3 separate regions of the Homo sapiens genome follow, and all the other regions are linked to region 1. Evidence: fine-mapped expression QTL. Tissue or cell type: whole blood. Region 1 holds a variant in brackets; each other region holds the start of a gene. All regions are shown on one strand. Distances are between the middles of the regions.

Region 1 (5,199 bases):
TGCTCAGGCTGAAGAGTCCAGTATCATCTCCAAGCCAAACTTCCCGCCATTCTCCACATCTACTCCACCTTCAGAACCTAACCCCTCTTACCTCCTCCTCTGCACCACCCTGGTCAAGCCCAAGTTACTGAGCAGCCTCCTTACTAGCCCTTCACACACTGCCCAATCCCTTATCCACAGGGCAGCCCGCGGATTCCATGAAGAGGTGAGCCAGGCCAAGGAAGAGCAGACTCCTCCCCACCCACGGCTCCTGTCCCACTTTGAGTAAAAGTCGACATCCCTGCAACAGGCAAAGGCCTTGAGGCCCCACCCAACCTGCACCATCTGCACCCCCACCCACCACCTCCTGGACTTTACCTCCAACCACCCCACACCTGCTCACCCTACACCCGCTCACTCCACACCTGCTCACTCCACACCTGCCCCTCTGGGCTCCTCCCAGCTCCTCAAACACGCCAGGCTCACACCTGCCTCAAGACACCACACAGCTCCCCCCTCACATCCTCTGGTCCATACTTCAGTGTCACTCCAGTGACGGACCCCAGCCACCCCTACAGTGCACCACACCCGGCTGGCTTGGCTGCTCCCTACAGGACCCCCACCCTCATATACTCCAGGAGTTCCCTCTCCATCTCTGTTACTGTCCGTCTCCCCCACCACAATGGCAGCACCAGGAGGGCTGAGGTTTGCGTTGCTTTTGTTCCCTGCACTTGGAGTGGCACCGGCACATGGCAGGAACTTCGTGTATTTGAAGTGACTTAGCAGGGACCCAGAGGGAAGGTTAGGGCCACGCCCCAGCCTTGTGGAAACCCTATTACCTTTAGCTCAAATGCCCCCTAAATGCCCCCTCCTCTGAGAAAGCTTCCCTGCCCACCTCCCACCTAAGAGGCTCAAACTGCTTCTTGTTCCTCAACAAAAGAACACTATGAGCTAAGGGGTGTGGAGCCTCCTGCTGTGCTGGGCACAGTGCTGAGGCCTGGAGAGACACAAACTCATGCATCTCAGCTGCCCTAGGGCAAAGAAGCCAGGGCCCAGACCAACCCTAGATCAGGCTACAGGCCCCGGAGGACAGGAAGGGGCTCCGATTCCTTGTTCTCCACACTATGAGGGTGCAGGCCTGGCACCCAGTGGGTTTGCTTCCCAAAAAAGCTCTTATAAGGGAAGGGACTTCAGGGCACCTACGGTAAGCTTTGGGGAAGCTTACTTGACTCTGAGGACTGAGGCAGACAAAGGTCAGGGCCAAGAACCCAGGCTCTGGAGGTACACAGTCAATGACTTGAGTCCCTGCTCCTCTCCCTCTGTGCCACATGACCGTTAGCGAGTGACTTCCCTCTTTGACTTCAATTTCCTTTTTTTTTTTTTTGAGACAGGATCTCACTTTGGCTAGAGTGCAATGGCACGATCTCAGCTCACTGCAAACTCTGCCTCCCAGGTTCAAGCAATCCTCCTGCTTCAGCCTCCTGAGTAGCTAGGATTACAGGTGTGCACCACCATGCCAAGCTAATTTTTGTATGTTTAGTAGGGACAGGGCTTTGCCATGTTGGCCAGGCTCCTGCACTTTTTTTTTTCCCATTCACTTGCTGTCTCTCACACACACACAAAACACGGGCATCCTGCTCTTGAAAACAGGAACAAGAGCAAATAATAACCTCTGTCCCCATGGCCACAATGAGGGTCCTTATTAGATGATGAACGTGAAGCATTGGCACAGTGGAACCTGGTGCACACGTTGGCTATGTTTGTGAGCAGACAAATGCAGTAGGCATGTGGTTGGGAAATCCAGAGTGTGGTCACACAGGCTTCAGGCCCCTGAATGGGGTGGGGACAGCAACAGAGCCCTCTTCTGAAGGGTCCCAGACAAGAGGTGCATTCAAAGTCTGGAACACAGGCCAGGTGCAGTGGCTCACATCTGTAATCCCAGCACTTTGAGAGGCCAAGGTGGGCAGATCACTTGAACTCAGGTTCAAGACCAGCCTGGCCAAAATGGTGAAACCTTATCTCTACAAAAAATACAAAAATTTAGCCAAGCACAATGGCATATGCCCATAATCCCAGCTACTCAGGAGGCTAAGGCAGGAGAATCACTTGAGCCTGGGAGGTGGAGGTTACAGTGAGCCGAGATTGCACCATTGCACTCCAACCTGGCTGACGAGAGTGAAACCCCGTCTCAGACCAAAAAAAAAAAAAAAAAAAAAAAAAAAAAAAAAGTGGGCTGGGCACAATGGCTTAAACGCCTGTAATCCCAGCACTTTGAGAGGCTGAGGCGGGTGGATCACCTGAGGCCGGGAGTTTGAGACCAGCCTGGCCAACACGGTGAAACCCTGTCTCTATTAAAAATACAAAAATTAGCTGGGCGTGGTGGTGCACACCTGTAGTCTCAGCTAATCGGGAGGCTGAGGCAGGAGAATTGCTTGAAGCTG[G/A]GAGAAGGAGGCTGCAGTGAGCTGCGATAGCACCACTGCACTCTAGCCTGGGCAACAGTGCAAGACTCCGTCTCAAAAAAGAAAAAAATAAGAAGAAGAAGTCTGGAGCACAGACCAGGGCTCTAGTGGTGTCACCAACCCAGAATTCCACCCAGAAGGCAGGCAAAAGAGCTGAGGCCTGGACAGGGGTGTGACATTGGTCTGCACATGTGCAAGGTACAGGGCATGCATCCTCACCCTGAGGGATCTGCGTGGCCAGTGGAGAGGAGATAGTGACGAAGTGGCGTTCCTTGCAGCCGTAGTGGACAGGCATCTGGCGCCCCTTGCCCAAGTCACTGATGTTGCCATAGCACTGGGCCATGAATAGTTCCAGGGGGTAGTCCCGATACATCAGCACACCTAGGAGGGGAGGAGGCAATGGTTAGCCGAGTGGGCAGTACAGGGGGACAGTTCAGCCCTGTGGGTGACCTGCAGCATGCTGGCAGGCAGACAGGAAAGCTCAGGCTTGTTTTAAGAGGAAGACTGATGTTCAGACTGACTGACTCTGCCCAGCAAGGCCAATCTGATTTTTCAAAAGAAAGCAGAAATCTAGCCTTTTTCTTTCTTTCTCTTAGTGAGATATTGTCTGGTATTTAAGTGCTTTCAACTAATTCAATTACCTTTAAGAAATATTCTAACCATAAATCATTACTATGGCCAGGCATGGTGGTTCATGCCTGTAATCCCAGCACTTTGAGAGGCTGACGTTGGAGGATCGCTTGAGCCCAGGAGTTGGAGACCAGCCTGAGCAACATGGTGAGGCCTCGCTTCTACAAAAAAAAAAAAAAATCAAAACATTAGCCAGGCATGGTGATGTGTGCCTGTGGTTCCAGCTACTTGGGAGGCTGAGGCAGAGGATTGCTTCAGCCCAGAAGTTCAAGGCTGCAGGCAGCTGAGATCGTGCCACTGCACTCCAATCTGGGCTACAAAGCAAGACCCTGTCTCGAAAAAAAAAAAAAATCATCATTATGAACCAAATAACAGCATAGACCACTAATTTACAACTTCTGGACTACAGAAGTACTCTAACCCATGTATGGCAGTAAAACCTTTTCTTCAAACAAAACCTCTGGTGAACACCCACCTCCCCATCAAAGGGAACCGCTCCAGGTTAAGGGGGCCCTTCCTCCGAAGTTAGAAGACAGAAGGGGGTTTGTGATTGCCCTCAGACAAGCTCTTTGCCCCGCCTGAAGAGTGGGACAACCTTCACACCAACACTTTAGGGGCAGCGCTGTGGATCAATGCTGCAAGCACTCAGACCGGGAACATTATTCAGAGGGAGCTCTCTAGTACAGTGCTTTCCAAATCCTTTCTTTACCGCAGAACCCGCTCTTTAGATACAAATTTAATGGAGATCACATTACACACAGCAGTTACCTTTTTTTTTTTTTTTTTTTTTTTTTGAGACAGAGTCTGGCTTGGCCACCCAGGCTGGAGTGCAGTGGCGCAATCTGAGCTCACTGCAACCTCCACCTTCCAGGTTCAAGCAATTCTTATGCCTCAGCCTCCCAGATAGCTGGGATTCCAGGTGTGCACCACTAGATCTACCTAATTTTCTTTCTTTTTTTTTTTTTGAGACGGAGTTTTGCTCTTGTTGCCCAGAATGCAATGGCGCAATCTTGGCTCACTGCAACCTCTGCCTCCTGGGTTCAAGCGATTCTCCTGCCTCAGCCTCCTGAGTAGCTGGGATTACAGGCATGTGCCACCACATCCAGCTAATTTTTGCATTTTCAGGAGAGACGGGGTTTCTCCATGTTGGTCAGGCTGGTCTCAAACTCCCGACCTCAGGTGATCCACCCACCTCAGCCTCCCAAAGTGCTGCAATTACAGGTGTGAGCCACCACGCCCAGCCCACTTGTTGATATTTTAGTTAGAGTTGAGGGTGGTTAGCACTACTTCAACATCCAACTTTAATACAGGTTTACTGGTATTTTCTGACACATGCTTTTGAATGGACATAATACAAATCCACACAAGATGTGGCTGTGCTGCATATGTAACAGATAGAAACAGGAGTTGCTCTGGTTAAGGAGGGAAAGAAAGGTCTTGTAGAGGGTCAAAGAAGGTCCAAGGGACTGATACAGGACCTTGGAATCAGGCTTTCTCAGAATGTGGTACTAGGTCCACCCATGTGAGAAGGACTGGGCAGGGGCAGGGGAACGTGCTAAAAGTACAAACTTGTCAGGCTCAGTGGCTCGTGCCTGTAATCCCAGCACTTTGGAAGGGTGAGGCAGGTGGACTGCTTGAGCTCAGGAGTTTGAGACCAGCCTGGGCAACACAGCGAAACCCCGTCTCTACCAAAAATCAAAAAAAAAATTAGCCAGGTGTGGTGGCGTGCACCTGTGGTCCCAGCTATTCAGGGGGCTGAGGTGGGAGGATCACTTGATCCTAAGAGGCAGAGGTTGCAGTGAGCCGAGATCATGCCACTGCACTTCAACCTGGGTGACAGAGTAAGACCCCGTCTTGAAGAAAAAAGAAAATACAGACTCACAGGCTGATTTGCACCAGGAAACTCCAGGTCCAGTGGGAACTGCTGCTCTTGCTTGACACATGCTACCTCTTTTCTTGTTGGTCTCAGAGACAGGATCTTACTCTGTCACCCAAACTGGAGTTCGGTGGTGGAATCATAGCTCACTGCAGTCTTGAACCTCTGGGCTCAAGCAATCCTCCCACTCAGCTTCCTGAGTAGCTGGGACTACAGGTGTGCACCACCACGCCTGGCTAATTTTTTAATTTTTTA
Region 2 (5,121 bases), 21 kb before region 1:
GTGGTGGAGAGTAAAGGGCAGAGGGAGTGGGATGGGGGTTCCTGGGAAAGGTATCCCAAAGTCCACTCTTCAGAGAGAATCAGCTGGCCTTGTGCTTTTCTTTTTCCTTCTGAAGTCTAACCTCAACTCTGCTCACAGGGTTCAAACATAGCCTCTTGCAGAGGTCTAACTCCACCCTTCCCTGCCTGTCTCAGGCCTGACCCCTCAGGGGCGCTCAGTGTCTGTAGATGCCTGGCACCCTCTGTCCTTCCACCTGCCCCCCACCACCACTTCTCCAGCCTCTCCTCAGCCTCCATTTGACCTCTGGCTTGCCCATAGCTTGGTCCTTGCTTGTCCTCTTGGCACGGGTCATCCTAGGGCTTTCCCACCAGTGTGCCTTTGGGGGCAGGAATGGCTCCCAGGGGCACCAAGACAGCAATCCCTTAGCTGGAGTGCCTGTGTCCAGGCTGCTGGCCTAGGGCCAAGCAGCCAATTCTGCTGACCCTGGACTTGCCTATGGGTATATTATCCCTGTTGAGGGTGAGGGCTTCTGCTGTGGAAAAGTCTGGGAAGCACTGCAGGCCTCTCTCGGCCTTGGACCCTTCCTTCAGACCCAAGGTGCATATATATACATATATATAATGGTAGATCACGAGGTCAGGAGATCAAGACCATCCTGGCCACATGGTGAAACCCCGTCTCTAGTAAAACACAAAAAATTAGCCGGGCATGCTGCCGCGTGCCTGTAGTCCCAGCTACTCGGGAGGCTGAGGCAGGAGAATGGTGTGAACCCAGGAGGTGGAGGTTGCAGTAAGCCAAGATCACGCCACTGCATTCCAGCCTGGCGACAGAGCAAGACTCCATCTTAAAATAAACAAATGAACAATATATATATATATGTATTTTGTTTTTTGAGACAGAGTCTCGCTCTGTCATCCAGGCTGGACTGCAGTGGTGCAATCTTGGCTCACTGCAACCTCCGCCTCCCGGGTTCAAGCGATTCCCCTGCCTCAGCCTCCTGAACAGCTGGGGTTACAGGTGCACGCCACCACACCTGGCGAATTTTTGTATGTTTAGTGGAGACGGGGTTTCACCATGTTAGCCAGGCTGGTCTCAAACCCCTGACCTCAGGTGATCTGCCCACCTCGGCCTCCCAAAGTGCTGGGATTACAGGCGTGAGCCAACGCGCCCAGCCCCAAGTCCCTTTTACCATAGAAAGTAACATAGTCACAGTGCCCAGGGATTCACAGGTATGGGGAGAGGGTTCGTTATTCAGCTGCCACACCCACCTTCCTAAACCTGCTGCCCTTCCAGTTTCCTCACGTGCACAGCCACGCCCGTCTGCTTTTAGTTTCTCAATCTGTTGGCTTAACCTTCAAAACAGGCCCAGGATTTGAGCACTTCTCACCATTCCCTCTGCCCCATCCCCATTCATCTCTTGCCTAGACTGCTACAGCAGCCTCTTTTACTGGTCCCCTGCATCCACCCTTGCCCTCTAAGGCAAGGGTCCCCAGTCCCTGGGCCAAGGACCAGTACCAGCCCCTCGCCTGCTAGGAACTGGGCCGCACAGCAAGAGATGAGCAGCGGGTAAGTGAGCATTACCGCCTGAGCTCCGCCTCCTGTCACATCAGCAGTGGCATTAGATTCTCATAGGAGGCAAACCCTATTGTGAACTGTGCGTGCGGGGGATCTAGGTTGCCTGCTCCTTATGAGAATCTAATGCCTGATGATCTCAGGTGGAACAGTTTCATCCCAAAACCATCCCCACCCCACCCCCGACCCCCAGTCTATGGAAAAATTGTCCTCCACGAAACCAGTCCCTGGTAACAAAACGGTTAGGGACCGCTGCTCTAAGGTACATTCTCCACCTGGCAGAAATAATCTTTACAAAATGTAAATCCGATTTTGACACTCCCTTCTTCCCACTGTGAATAGAATAAAACCCTACCAGGCCTGCACCGTCAGCCCCTGCCCACCTCTCAACCCAGTCTCCTATCTCTGTCTGCAAGCTGGTTCCCACCTCAAGGCCTCTCTGCTCTAGAGGCTACCTCTCCCTGCAGCGCTTTTCCCCTAGATCTTTGAATGGCTCTTTCCTTATCATTCACTTCTACTTCAATGTCACCTCTTCAGAGAGGCCTTTGCTGATGGCCCTACACCCAGTCACTTTTTTTTATCTGCTTCTCATCAAAATTGCCTTGCTGATTCCTTTGTTTCTTATTCATCCTCTCCCACATCCATCCTCTCCCAGCCCAGAATGTTGACTTCCTGAGAGAGGGACTGGGTCTGTCCTGCTCACCATGGTAACCTCGGCATCTAGAACAGTGCCTGCCATCACGTGGTAGGTGCTCAGTAAATATTCTTGGAACTAATGAATGAATAATTCTATCCACAAGACTTCACAATGGCTCTTCATGCTGCGATCTAGCTTTCAACTCCAAACTGGTCTTGAGATCTCACCTCAGTCTCTAACCTTGACATCTAACCTCTTCACCCACTCTCTTACCTGACCCTAATTTTTAAAAATGACGTGGTCAGCTTTTCAGCCCCCTCATTCCCTGTTTTTAGGAGGTAGTGAGTGGAAGCTGGAAGAATAAGAAAGCTTGGGGAGACTGCAATTGCAGTCAGGAAAGAAAGGTACTCTGCCGGGAAGAACACCCCATCTTCTCCTAGGGAAAGATTGTGGAGTCCTGGGGTTTGTTTTGTTTTTCAATTTTTTGTTTTAAGAGACAGCGTCTCGCTCTGTCACCCAGGCTGGAGTGCAGTGGCGCAATCACAGCTCACTGCAACTTCGACCTCCCCGGCTCAAGTGATCCCCCCGCCTCAGCCTCGTGAGTAGCTGGGACCACAGGCGTGCACCACCACGCCCGGCTAACATTTTATTTTTTGTGGATATAAGGTTGCCCTATTTCTTTGTGGAGATAAAGGCTCCCCTATGTTGCCCAGGCTGGTCTCGAACTCCTGGCTTCAAGCGATGCTTTCGCCTCGGCCTCCACAAAGTGCTGGGTTCACAGGTGCGTGAGCCCGACCTGTGTCTCGTTTTGAAGCTCAGGGAGAGGGCGCTGTGAGCAATCCCTAAACCCTTTAAGAGTAAAAAGTGCGTGCACCTTTAAGAGGACGGTTAGAAAACGCGGGGCGTGGCCACAGGAGAATAAGTTCGCGCTGAACCAGGAGCGTGGGATAAGACCGGCCCCTTCCGGTTACGAAACCTTAGCAAGATGGCGGCTCCCTGGGCGGTAAGTGACCGGAGTTCCTAGAGCCCCAAATTTGAAGTCCGCTCTACAGCCTCCGCATTCAGGGCCTCTGTTGGCGGCCACGAGAGCAGAAAGCCGTGAGGCAGCAGGCTAAGCCTGGCAAGCCCCGTACTGGGAGTGCAAACCTGTGGCTAGTGGGGGCCAGGAAGGATCTGTGAGGGTCGCAGGCGGAGGAGACGCTTTAGCGAGCGAGAGGAGGCAGGGACTTGGCTGAGAGTATCCAATGGGGATGAGGGAGTGGCTGCCGAAGAGCGACGCGACTAACCAATCAGAGGGAGGGATGACACAAGGAGCTAATGGACAGGCAAGGGTGGGGCCTGTAGGATAAGAGAGCTTGGAAGGGATTGTTCGAGGATGTGGGATTTGGTCTTAGAAGACCGAAGGATGAATGTAAGGAAAGTTAGTGGGAGATTGACGAATTTTTACAGAAAACTCAAAAGCATGATGGGTGGGGGAACCAAGAGGTCAATTTGGAGGTTCTAAGGGCATGATCTGGGTGAAATTAAGAGGAGAATTTGAGATATTCTTTCAGAGGATTTAAAATCAAGGAATGAATTTAGGGAAAATTAAAGAGGTTGGCAGCTTTAAACTTTTGAGGAAAATAAGGGTTTGGGTAAAATTATCGAGATAATTTGAAAAAAAAAAAGAATTTGGTTAAAGCAAAGAGAAATTGGGGTAGATTAAGAGGAGACCTTGAAAGCAAAATTGAAGAGTTTGGGGGCTTCTTCCCATTGGCCACACCCCTCGACTTTCTTACTCTCCTCTTCAAAGCTCATGCTTTTTATACCCTTCTCGGTTCAGGGGTGTCCAATCTTTTGGCTTCCCTGGGCCACGCTGTTCGAAGAAGAAGAATTGTCTTGGGCCACACATAAAATACACTAACCATAACTGATGAGCCAAAAAAAAAAAAAAAAAAATCACAAAAATATCCTCCTAATGTTTTAAGAAAGTTTGCATGTTTGTGTTGGGCTGCATGCAGGCGGCGGGTTGGACAAGCTTGGTTGGTTTTAGGGATTGCTCAGAGCACCCTCTCCTTGAGGTTTGGAGATAAGTTTTTAAGATTATATTCTGGGGAAAGAAAGAAGTCATTTGGGAAGACCCCAGCAGAAGAATTGGGTAATTAAGGGGCAAATCTGTGGAAAATTAAGAGGTCAAATAATGCAGGTTTTGAGTGATAAGGGTTTGGGGGAAAGTTAGAGGAAGAATTTAGGAAAATCAACAATATATGGCTAGTCGAGAAAATTTAGGGTTCACTAAGGGGAGGAGGAACTTGGAAAAAACATGGGGAAATTTTTGGAATCTCAAAGACAGTTTTGAAGTTTTGAAGGAAGAACTTAGGGTGAGTTGGGAAGCAGAGGGATTGAGGTTCATGGAGCAAGAACTGGGGGATCCAGCTCTGTGTCTCCCAGGAGGCTCCAGGCTCAGCTCCTTTCCTCTCCCCCTCCCCAGTCCCTGCGCCTGGTCGCCCCCATGTGGAATGGGCGTATCAGGGGCATCCATCGCCTGGGTGCGGCAGTGGCCCCAGAGGGCAATCAGAAGAAGAAAAGGACAATACTCCAGTTCCTGACCAACTATTTCTACGATGTGGAGGCTCTGAGGGATTACTTGCTCCAAAGGGAGATGTACAAGGTGCATGAGAAAAATCGGTGAGAATCCCTGGTCTGCAAGACCCTGTGGAGACCCTGGCCCACCAGAGCCCAGGTCCTGTCCTTGCCATTCCCAGGCAGCACTGTGGCTTCCAGTGCCAGCCTTGATGTCTCTTGCAGCTCCATCTCCAGGCTGTACCCTTCTCAAGGACTCCAGCTCACATAGGCAGTTTGCCACCCACCAGCTCCACTCAGAGTCTAACTGGCATCTCAAACCTAACATGGCTAAAGCCAAACCCTGATTT
Region 3 (5,121 bases), 43 kb after region 1:
GGCATGGTGGCACATGCCTGTGGTCCCAGCTACTCAGGAGGCTGAGGTGGGAGGATTGCTTAAGCCCGGGAGGTCAAGGTTGCAGTAAACTATGATCGCTCCACTGCACTCCAGCCTGGGCAACAGAGCGAGACCCTGTCTCTCTCTCTCTCTCTCTCTCTCTCTCTCACACACACACACAAAGAGGGAGACAGCAGGGTGGACAAAAGCCAGAGGTGCATGCACTCTGAAGACACCAACCAGCGGAGTCTGAGATCAGAGGGAAGACAGAGCCAAAAGCCAGGCAACAAAGATGAGAGACATAAAACAAGAAGAACCGTAACTGGAAATCTCAGAAGCCCACACACAGCTGGGAAGTGAGACTCCAGGCCTAAGGCAGATCGGCACAGCTGTCAACCTGCCAGATGCTGGCCTTAGTGGGGCTCACCCCAGCCCCCTCCCGTGCCTTCCACTAAGGCCTGCTGTTTCCTACCTCAACATCAGGGGGCCTTGGTTCCCCCAGGCCAGCGCTCACGGAGGGAAGAGGCGGTGACAGGAACTGCAAACCCCTCAGGGACTCGGCAAAGGCTATCTCTCTTAAGGGGGACCCCAGCTCATGCCTGCCAGGCTTCTGGGCAGGGGTCTCACATTCTGTGCCCTCCAGCAGAGGCTGTTGAAGCTCACGAAGACTAGGGCTGTCCATGGCTTTGGGGAAACTCCAGGAGGGGTTTCCTAGGGGTAGGGGGAAGAAAAAGACAAGTTGTAAAAGTCTCACTTCACTCAACCTCTGACCCCTTGCTTTAGAGAGACTCAGGCAGAGACTAGTTAGTGCAGTGGTCCTCAGACCCATTTTACAGATACAGAAGCTGAGGCCCAGAGAGAAAAAAAGATTGGCCTCAGGTTATGAAGAGAACTCAGGGGTCTGGACATTCAATTTTGGGCATTTCTCTCTCTCTCTCTTTTTTTTTTTTTTTTTTGAGACAAAGTCTCCATCTGTTGCCCAGGCAGATCCACCACTGCAGATCCGCTAGAGTGCAGTGGCATGATCTCAGCACACTGCAGCCTCCACCTCCCGGGTTCAAACCATTCTGCCTCAGCCTCCCGAGTAGCTGGGATTACAGGCGCCCACCACCATGCCCGGCTAATTTTTTTTTTTGTATTTTTAGTAAAGATAGGGTTTCACTGTGTTAACCAGGCTGGTCCCGAACTCCTGACCTTAGGGGATCCACCAGCCTTGGCCTCCCAAAGTGCTGGGATTACAGGCGTGAGCCACCGCACCCAGCCAAATTCTGGGCATTTCTCTCAGGCAAAAGCCACATACCCATCACACTTACCCCAATAAGTTGCAGCACCTGTTGCACCATGCCTTACACACTTACCTGCCCCACAAACACCCCCAATATCCATCCCAGGTTCATACCGCGTGACCACCTATCCAGGCCCAGGCACCCCTCCCAGTCACACACACACCCATCCCCTACCCCCAGTGCTGCCTGGAACTGCACTCTAGTCTACATTCCCCATCCTCTGTCCCCTAGACCTGCCCCCCGAAGTCCCCTGCCACACAGCCCCATCTAGGCAAGCCCAGCCTCCACCTCCACACATTCATCTCCCAAAGGACTCCTTGAATATTTGCCCCAAAACATCAGCTCCCAGAAAACACCCCTTTCAGGTCCCCAACCTTCTTACACATTTATCCCAATTGACTCCGTGCACAACCCTACTCCCCACTGCATCACAAACCACAGACACCTGTGCACACACGCACACATGCACCCCGGCACTCTCTCCTATTCTCATGACCTCTGGCATGCCTGCCCCACTCATCAGGCCCAGGCACCCCTGCCCTACTCCACCCACACACCTATGACTCCACACAACTCCCACACATGCACCAGCTCTCCAGAATCCTTTGCACACCTCGCCCCCATAAACACCCTCAACCCCAGCACACACATACACGTACACACGCAACACAACCAGAAAGAATATTCTTCTTCTCGTCCTACGATCCCCCTGGAAGGTCCCCAAGCCTCCTGCCTGCTCATTCCAAACCTTGACTGAGCCGATTTCCTCGCCAAAGCTTTGCCCTCTCATCCCCAACTCCAGGACCCAGGGAAGGGACTGTGACCCCCACCCACCTACGTCCCTCACTCACCGCTCACGATCACAGGCCGGGGCTTCCTGAACCCTCGCAATGACACTTGCCCGGACCCTGCCACCGAGGATCCAAGGGGCGCTGGGACCTTGCGCTTTGCTCTACGCGGGTCTCAGCGCCCCGGGCCCGCTGCGCGCGGGGGCGGGGACGGGGCGGGGCGACGGCTTCCCAGGCTCTGTCCCTCCGCGGCGTCCGGCGAGGGATCCCTGAAAGCCGACGTCAGCGTCCAGGAACGGGTTCCTACGACTCCCGGGGGTCTGGGAGCAGGCGGGAATCCTTGGAGAACTGCAGCCCCTTCCTCGTGAGCCCAGGCCCAAGCTCTGCCGGAGGAGGGGGCACCCCGGATTCTCCAGGGCCTTCCTGGCTTGGCCCCGCCTCCCTTCCCCTTTGCGCAATAATAGCCAATAATAATAACAGCAACAAGGACCGTGCGCCCTGTTCTAAGTGCTTTGCAAATAAACTTACATACACATGTATTCCTCAGCACAACCCTAAGAGGCATAATCGTTTATTGTCCTGTTTCACGCGGGAGGAAACTGGCAAGCCGAGGTTAGGTAAATTGCCTAGGGGTACATCATTGGTTCATTGAGGGCAGACTGTACCCAAGCCCTGTGTTAAACGCTTTACATTCATCATCGCATTCATTCTTCCTCTCAGCTCCGGGTTTTTCTTGTTGTTGTTGTTGTTGTCGCTGCTATTTTACTTTGGTTTTTTTGTTTGTTTTGTTTTGTTTTTGAGACGGAGTCTTGCTCTGTCGCCCAGGCTAGAGTGCAGTGGAGTGATCTCGGCTCACCGCAACCTCCGCTTCCCGGGTTCAAGCGATTCTCCTGCCTCAGCCTCCCGAGTAGCTGGGATTACAGGGGCAAGCCACCACGCCCAGCTAATTTTTGTATTTTTAGTAGATGAGATTTCGCTGTGTTGGTCAGGTTGGTCTTGAACTCCTGACCTCAGGTGATCTGCCCGCCTCAGCCTCCCAAAGTGTTAGGATTACAGGCGTGAGCCACCGCGCCCGGCAGATTTTTTTTTTATTATTATTTTTTAAAAGACGGGGTCTTGCTCTGATCGCCCAGGCTGGAAGGCAGTGGCGCAATCATTGCTCGCTTCAGCCTCAGACTCCTGGGTTCACTGCAGCCTCGGCCTCCCAAAGCGGTGGGATTACAGGTGTGAGTCACCGCGCCTGGCCTATTTTGTTTTGGGGTGTTTTTTTGCGGAGGAGTGCTGAAGGGGTGTTGGCTTGTTTTTAATCCCTGTTTTGCAGATAAAGAAACGGGCTCACGGGCCGGGCGCAGTGGCTCACGCCTGTAATCCCAACACTTTGGGAGGCCGAGGCGGGCGGATCACGAGGTCAGGAGATCCAGACCATCCTGGCTGACACGGTGAAACCCTGTCTCTACTAAAAATACAAAAAATTAGCCGGGCTTGGTGGCGGGCGCTTGTAGTCCCAGCTACTTGGGAGGCTGAGGCAGGAGAATGGCGTGGACCCGGGAGGCGGAGCTTGCAGTGAGCCGAGATCGCGCCACTGCACTCCAGCCTGGGAAACAGCAAGACTCCGTCTCAAAAAAAAAAAAAAAAAAAAAAAAAGAAAAGAAAATAAACGGGCTCACTTGCATGCTCACTTGGCCACAGTAAACAGCTGGTACCAAGCCCAGCATATTGTAACCCCGGGCTGTGTTCCTGTGGCCCTTGCTAAGCCAATGGGTGAGGAGGAAGCAGAGGCAGGTGGGTTAGGAGTTTCTAGGGAAAGAAGGCTGAGGAGTGGGGTCCAGTAGGGGGTGATGCTCTGATTGTCACGTGGTACAGTGATGTTCATGAGTCAGCATTTGGACCCACATAGACCTGGTTTCCTTTCCAGGCTCTTTGTTTGTTTGTTTGAGATGGAGTTTCACTCTTGTTGCCCAGGCTGGAGGGCAATGGCGTGATCTCGGCTCACCGCAACCTCCGCCTCCCAGGTTCAAGCGATTCTCCTGCCTCAGCCTCCCGAGTAGTTAGGATTACAGGAATGCGCCATCACACCTGGCTAATTTTGTATTTTTGGTAGAGATGGGGTTTCTCCATATGAGTCAGGCTGGTCTTGAACTCCCGACCTCAGGTGACCCACCCGCCTCAGCCTCCCAAAGTGCTGGGATTACAGGTGTGAGCCACCATTCCTGGCCCCTTTCCAGGCTCTTTAAGTCACTGAGTGTGTGGCCTCTAGACAATGCCTTCACCTCTCTGAACCCCTATTTCTTCACCTACAAAATGGGGATAATGCTCCTTGCCTCTTATGTGATAACATATGTAGAGTACTTAGAGTTGCTGCAACAACAAATGTCCAACATTGGGAGCCTCTCTGAACCTATTTTGGTTTAGGTGCTGCCTAGGAAATAGAAAAATAAAAAATAAAAAGAACAGATATCCAACATTTATCCAAAGCCTGGCAAAGAAAGCACTCTGAACACATTTGATGGTGTTTATTAATATTATTATTTACATCCATCTCCATCGGACTGATTACAAGACTATCATCGTCTTGCAAGCTTCCACCTCCTTCATGGAGCCTTGTATAGGCCTCCCTTCCCAGAAGCCCTCCGTCTCACCAGACTGGAGGATTCCCTGGCCTTTGTGGGGCCGGAGTTCCCTCGCTCCAGGGCTCCAGGGCTCCTTGCCAAGAGTCCAGATGCTGGCGCTGGCACCGGCCCCACTCCCAGGGAGAACAGATGGCGTCTGCAAGTGCACTTGGCTCAGCCAGTTTCTGGCAGACGACAGAAGCAGGGAGACCCACGGGAGGGTAGACGAGAGCGTGAGGGGGCAGGATTGTTTTACTCAGGAGGGATGCCCTGTTACTTTCTATCTCAACCTTGCTCTCATTCTTTTCATATTTCTATGAAGCATACTGTAGGCCAGGTGCGGTGGCCCACGCCTGTAATCCCAGCCCTTTGGGAGGCCGAGGAGGGAGGACTGCTTGAGCCTAGGAGTTCGAAACCAGCCTGGGCGACATAGCAAAA

The links. PIP is the estimated chance that this variant, and not a neighbour inherited with it, causes the effect.
Region 2: DMAC2 starts here. The variant in region 1 is fine-mapped to the expression of DMAC2 in whole blood (INTERVAL, PIP above 0.99).
Region 3: it holds the start of TMEM91, and the variant in region 1 is fine-mapped to the expression of TMEM91 in whole blood (INTERVAL, PIP above 0.99).

Annotation. Positions count from the first base shown.
Region 1 is chr19:41,416,755-41,421,953 of GRCh38, reverse strand. BCKDHA (branched chain keto acid dehydrogenase E1 subunit alpha) reads right to left here. Exons shown (of 9, transcript NM_000709.4): 5 at 2,658-2,819. Among named protein-coding and RNA genes, the nearest start is that of B3GNT8, 8.0 kb to the left of the region's middle. The variant G/A (reference allele first, on the strand shown) is at 2,421.
Region 2 is chr19:41,437,973-41,443,093 of GRCh38, reverse strand. DMAC2 (distal membrane arm assembly component 2) reads left to right here and starts at 3,182. Exons shown (of 6, transcript NM_018035.3): 1 at 3,182-3,212; 2 at 4,680-4,876. The coding sequence starts at 3,195. RefSeq lists an enhancer at 3,278-3,447.
Region 3 is chr19:41,373,871-41,378,991 of GRCh38, reverse strand. It overlaps TMEM91 (transmembrane protein 91), which reads right to left and starts at 2,459. Exons shown (of 4, transcript NM_001098821.2): 1 at 2,138-2,459; 2 at 473-711. The coding sequence starts at 682. RefSeq lists a silencer at 2,214-2,343.